Regions from separate parts of the Homo sapiens genome. Here region 2 is linked to region 1. A link means that fine-mapping ties the variant in region 1 to the expression of a gene that starts in the linked region. Tissue or cell type: visceral fat. Region 1 holds a variant in brackets; the other region holds the start of a gene. All regions are shown on one strand. Distances are between the middles of the regions. Region 1 overlaps TRPM7 (transient receptor potential cation channel subfamily M member 7). Region 2 holds the start of USP50 (ubiquitin specific peptidase 50).

The links. PIP is the estimated chance that this variant, and not a neighbour inherited with it, causes the effect. A credible set is the group of variants that fine-mapping cannot tell apart.
Region 2: USP50 starts here. The variant in region 1 is the best candidate, but not a certain one, in a credible set for the expression of USP50 in visceral fat (GTEx, PIP 0.70).

What each region holds. Positions count from the first base shown.
Region 1 is chr15:50,654,529-50,657,446 of GRCh38, reverse strand. All of the region lies in intron 3 of TRPM7 (transient receptor potential cation channel subfamily M member 7), which reads left to right. The region is part of intron 3 of LOC128092252; the gene reads left to right. Among named protein-coding and RNA genes, the nearest start is that of TRPM7, 31 kb to the left of the region's middle. The variant C/T (reference allele first, on the strand shown) is at 1,723.
Region 2 is chr15:50,544,967-50,547,884 of GRCh38, reverse strand. It overlaps USP50 (ubiquitin specific peptidase 50), which reads left to right and starts at 1,219. Exons shown (of 7, transcript NM_203494.5): 1 at 1,219-1,412. The coding sequence starts at 1,360.

The DNA.
Region 1 (2,918 bases):
CCTGGAAAAATGAGAGTTTCAGTTACTCTACAAGGCTTTTTGTTGCACATGCTTTTGATTTCATGTTAAAAGGATATTGTACAGGCAATTAATAACATGCTATATTAGTATTATTATTATTTTGAGACGGAGTCTTGCTCTGTTACCCAGGCTGGAGTGCAGTGGCACAATCTCGGCTCACTGCAACCTCTGTCTCATGGGTTCAAGCAATTCTCCTGCCTCAGCCTCCCGAGTAGCTGGGATTACAGGCATGCGCCACCATGCCCGGCTAATTTTTGTATTCTTAGTAGAAATGGGGTTTCACCATGTTGGCCAGGCTGGTCTTGAATTCCTGACCTCAGGTGATCCACCCGCCTCGGCCTCCCAAAGTGCTAGGATTACAGGTGTGAGCCACCAGGCCCGGCTGATTTTATTTTTTGTAAGAGCAGTTTGCATTTTTAGATTGGATTGGAAGAAAATAGACCAGTTGCTAAAGTTTTAGAGTGACTCTGGCAAAAAGATGAGAACCTGAAGTAAGATGTTTTTGACAATGAAGAGAAGTAGGCATATTTGAAGGGCTTAATGAGATAAATGCAATAGGATTTGGTGAATGTGAAGAAAAGGGAAGATTTGAGCATGGTAACTACATTTCCTTCTTAGGCAACTGAGTAAATTGTAATATGCTTTAGGGTCTGATGAGGAAGTATAAGAGGAAGAAGAGAAGGTCTCTGGGTGGTAGGCTAGGAATAAAAGTACATAGAATGGGTTTATTTTAGATATATTGAAGAGTTTTTCAAGGAAGTCTGTAAAAACAAAAACAAAAAACCTGACAGGCTGGATGTGATGGTTCGCGCCTGTAATCCCAGCACTTGGGGAGGTTGAGGCAGGAGGATGGTTTGAGCCTAGGAGTTTGAGACCAGCCCGGGTAGCATAGTGAGACCCTGTGTCTACCAAAAAAAAAAAAAAAAGAAAACCACACACAAAAATCTTGGCATGGTATCATGTACCTGTAGTCCCAGCTACTTAAGAGGCTGAAGCAGGAACATCATTGGAGCCGGGAGGATCGTTTGGGCCTGGGAAGTTGAGGCTGCAATAAGCCCTGATCACACCACTGCACTCCTGCCTGGGCAACAGAGCAAGACCCTGTCTCCAGAAAAAAAAACAAACAAAAAGACCTGACAGTCTTTCATATTTGCCCCTGTACTTAACCATCTCCAGTCCTTTTCATTTCTTCTTATAGATGGTGAGGTTCCATCTGGTGTCTCTTGTTTGACGATGCCAAAGAGTTTCTTTTATTTAGCATTTCATATAGTGCAGCTACACTGAACTGAACATGAATTTTCTCAGTTTGGTCTATCTGAAAATATATTTCTTTTATTTTCATGTTTGAAGAATGTTTTCACTGGATATAGAATTCTGGGTTGTGTTATTTTATTGCAGCAGGGGTTTTTTTTTTTTGTTTTTTTCTTTTTTTGAGATGGAGTCTTGCCCTGTTGCCCAGGCTAGATGGCATACAGTGGTGCGATCTCAGCTCACAGCAACCTTTGCCTCCCAGGTTCAAGTGATTCTCCTGCCTCAGCCTCCCCAGAAGCTGGGATTACAGGCACACACCACCATGCCTGGCTAATTTTCGTACTTTTAGTATAGATGGGGTTTCACCATGGTGGCTGGGCTGGTCTCCTGACCTTGTGATCTGCCTGCCTTGGCCTCCCAAAGTGCTGGAATTCCAGGCGTGAGCTGTTG[C/T]GCCCAGCCCATTGCAGCACTTTAAAGGTGTCATTATTTTATCTTGTAGCTTTTGTTTCTAATGAGAAGGCAGCTGTAATACAGTAGTTGTCTTCCTGTGTGGAATGGGTCTTTTTCTTCTCTAGCTACTTTAAATATTTTTTTTTTCTATTCCTTTGGTTTTCAGCAGCATGTCTATAATATGCCTGAGAGTGATTCTCTTTGTACTTATTCTGCTTGCGTAAATATTTGCACGTTCAAATTTTTTACCTGATTGAGAAGGTTTTTTGTTTTTTTGTTTTTTTTTTCCTTTGAGATGGAGTCTTGGTCTGTTGTCCAGGCTGGAGTGCAGTGGTGCGATCTTGGCTTACTGCAACCTCTGCCTCCCAGGTTCAAGCAATTCTCCTGCCTCAGCCATCTGAGTAGCTGGGATTACAGACGCATGCCACCATGCCTGGCTCATTTTGTATTATTAGTAGAGATGGGATTTTACCTTGATGGTCAGGGTGGTCTTGAACTCCTGACCTCGTGATTCGCCCGCCTTGGCCACCCAAAGTGCTGGGATTACAGGCGTGAGCCACTGCATTTGGCCAGGAAGTTTTTTTTTTTTAATTAACTTTTTTTTCTTTATCTGATGTATTGAATAATTTCTATTGATGTCTTCAGGTTCACTCTTATTTCTACATTCTCCATTTTGCTGTTTTGTCCATCCAGTGAATTTTCTTTTCTTTTTTTTTTTTTTTTTGAGACGGAGTGTCACTCTGTCGCCCACGCTGGAGTGCAGTGGCGCAGTCTCAGCTCACTGCAAGCTCTGCATCCTGGGTTCATGCCATTCTCCTGCCTCAGCCTCCCGAGTAGCTGGGACTACAGGTGCCTGCTGCCACACCCGGGTAGTTTTTTGTGGTTTTTTTTAGTAGAGATGGGGTTTCACCTTATTAGCCAGGATGGTCTTGATCTCCTGACCTTGTGATCTGCCCGCCTGTAATCCCAAAGTGCTGGGATTACAGGCGTGAGCCACTGCGCCCAGCCCATCCAGTGAATTTTCATTTCATACATTACATTTTTCAGTGCTAGGATTGCTATTTGATTCTTTGTTATAGTTTCCATTTTACTGCTGAGATGCACCATGTGCACTCTCATTATGACTGTCTATTCCTGTATGCCCTTCAGCATATTTATAATACCTGCATTAGAGTCTTTGTCTACTGATTCCAACA
Region 2 (2,918 bases), 110 kb after region 1:
AGTTGGGGTGCATACTATGGATTCCTCAACACCTTGCTTTTTTTGACTTACCAGTCATATATCTGGAGAGAAATCCATTTTAGCAAAAAATATGTGTAATATATTCTTTCTTTTTAATTTTTTTTTTCTTTTTTTGAGACCGAGTCTTCGCTTTGTTGCCCAGGCTGGAGTGCAGTGGCGCGATCTCGGCTCACGGCAAGCTCCGCCTCCCGGGTTCACGTCATTCTTCTGCCTCAGTTTCCCGAGTAGCTGGGACTACAGGCGCCCGCCACCACGCCCAGTTAATTGTATTTTTAGTAGAGATGGGGTTTCACCGTGTTAGCCAGGATGGTCTCTGTCTCCTGACCTCGTGATCCTCCCGCCTCAGCCTCCCAAAGTGCTGGGATTACAGGCGTGAGCCGATGCGCCCGGCCTCTTTTTAATTTTTTAAACTTGCAGAAGAGTTGCAAGAATAGTGCTCTTTAGTGGGCCTTCACTCGGAATCACCAACTGCTGGCGTGTGGGTGCACTGGCTTTATAGTATGTGCTTTATCAGTCCCCTTCCTTCCTGTCCTCCTGTCCCTGTGTGCTTCCTGAACCGTTTGAAAATAGGTTGCATATATCATGCCCCTGTGCCCCGAAAAACTTCAGTGTGTATTTTCTAAGAACAAGGGCATCCCCTTGCATAAACACAGTACAATCTTATCAAATTCAGAAGATTCAACATTAATAGAAAAAACTATCTGCATATTATCCATATTCAAATTTCATCAATCGTTCCCATAATGTTCTTTTATGGCAATTTTTTTTTTCTGATCCGGTATTCAGTCCGGATAGATCTAGCTCCTGAATAGAAGTGGAAATCCTCGCTCCCCGGGGTGAGGAAATTCCCTCAGGGCTCCTAGGTGTGGTGTAGTCGCTGGGAAGGGGGAATGAGTGCCCAGAGCAGGCAGGGTTGCCGTAGTGTCCACTAACTCAGTGGCGGTAAATTTTTGTGCACATGTTAAGTGTGTGTGTGTGTATGTGTAATATATATATACACAAGAGAAACTGAGTGATGGAAGAAGGAAGAGAGGTTATATGTGTAGTTCATTCTCTGGAGCCTAATCTTTCTAAAACATTTCAGACAACCCAGTAACAGTGTCTCATGGCAACATGATAGAATCTTGAAGGTGAATGGAAAGGATTATGATGTACGGAAAATCCAAGTTGGAGTGGTGCCTGATACAGGTGAAAATCAGTTCGCAGCTACTGGAAGAGAGAGGAGCATATCAATTGTTTAAAACAAAAAGCCAGCGTTAACAGGCTCAGAGAAATGAAGTTGAAAGGAATAGATGTAGCTCCTGAATAGAAGCAAAAGTCCAACGTGGTTCCATTAAAATGACTTCTCAGCCGTCTCTCCCTGCAGATGACTTCGATATCTACCACGTCCTGTGAGCCTTGATCTACTACAGCTTTCTAGATTAGCCCAGTGGTGGGAAAGTCAAGCTCAGAGGAGTCAGGGGACACACACTGCATTCAGGAGGGTTCTCCCAGGTGTGACCCATGGAAGGTCCCCGGAAAGGAAGGAAGATTGTACCTAATATCTTGGCAATAAATACATGTCCTTCCTAAAGGGTGACAGTCTAGGACCTCCTGTGGTATCAGTGAGTAAAAGTGAAAATGACCATGCTTATAACAGTGAACACTTTTCAAACTGGCATAACTGTACTTAAAAGTATGTATGAGGTAAGGTCACTGTCTCATGGAGCCCCAACTTTAGATACAATATATGGAAAGAAAAATCCGAGAGGACATAGATACCAGGCTGCCTGGCACAATACAAAAAATTGTAAGAGGAAGCTCTGTGCAGGGAGAGGAGGTCCCGTTTGGAACCCTCAGTGTTCTCTCTGTGCAGGCAGGTCTGGGCAATTCACATGAACACTCTAATCCTGTAGCTTACTGGGAAGGACATCCTAGATCAATCACTTAAAAAAATTTTTCAGTTGTCATTTAGACGAACCTGTGTCAAGTAGCTTGCATGATACCTGCATAATCCTCACAACCATCCTATCAGGCAGATGATATTATTCCTATTTTATAGATGAGAAACGGACATAGAATCCCAGATCCTATAATTAATAAACGGCATAGTTGGGATTTAAACTAAGATCTATATTTTTACAAAGTCTGTGCTCTTTCTCCTCTCCGTGTATATGTGTGTGTGTGTGTTTATATGTATATAGCTATATACATACACATATACACATATGTGTGCTCTTAAGATATATATATTCATGCTCTTAATGTGCATATATTATGCCTTCAATATATATGCCATACATACATATATATACAAATATATACATATATATCACATATATAGAGACAATCTTAATATATATAGACAATCTTAATATATGTAAATCCAAATATCTTAATGGATAGGTATGTTGGGAGAGAGGGAGGGAGGTAAACAGATAGGTGGATATTCCTTTTTTTACATACCACCACACACCCCATGAGTAAATGACTACATCATTTAAACCTGACATCTCATCTGTAAAATGGGATGTAAAAATAATCGTTCCTGCCTTACACAATTGTTGAAAGATTTAATGGGAAAATGCATGTTAAGTACTTAAATAGTGCCAGGCTCACTACCTGATAGCTATTGTTTTATTAACTATTAATAATAATAATAATAATTTAATTACTTGCCCAGCAAGTTGTCAGTTGTCTTGCTTTAGTTTTAGAAGGAAATTTTTATCTGTCTTATTTGGCTTCAGGTACTTGTTCACAGTTCTGGTCTAAGTTATGTAATTTTGTTTTTAATTTAATTTATTTATGTAATAGAGACAAGATCTCACTATGTTACCCTGGCTGGTCTCAAACTCCTGGCCTCAAGCAATCCTCCCACCTCGGCCTCCCAAAGGGCTGGGATTACAGGTGTGAGCCAC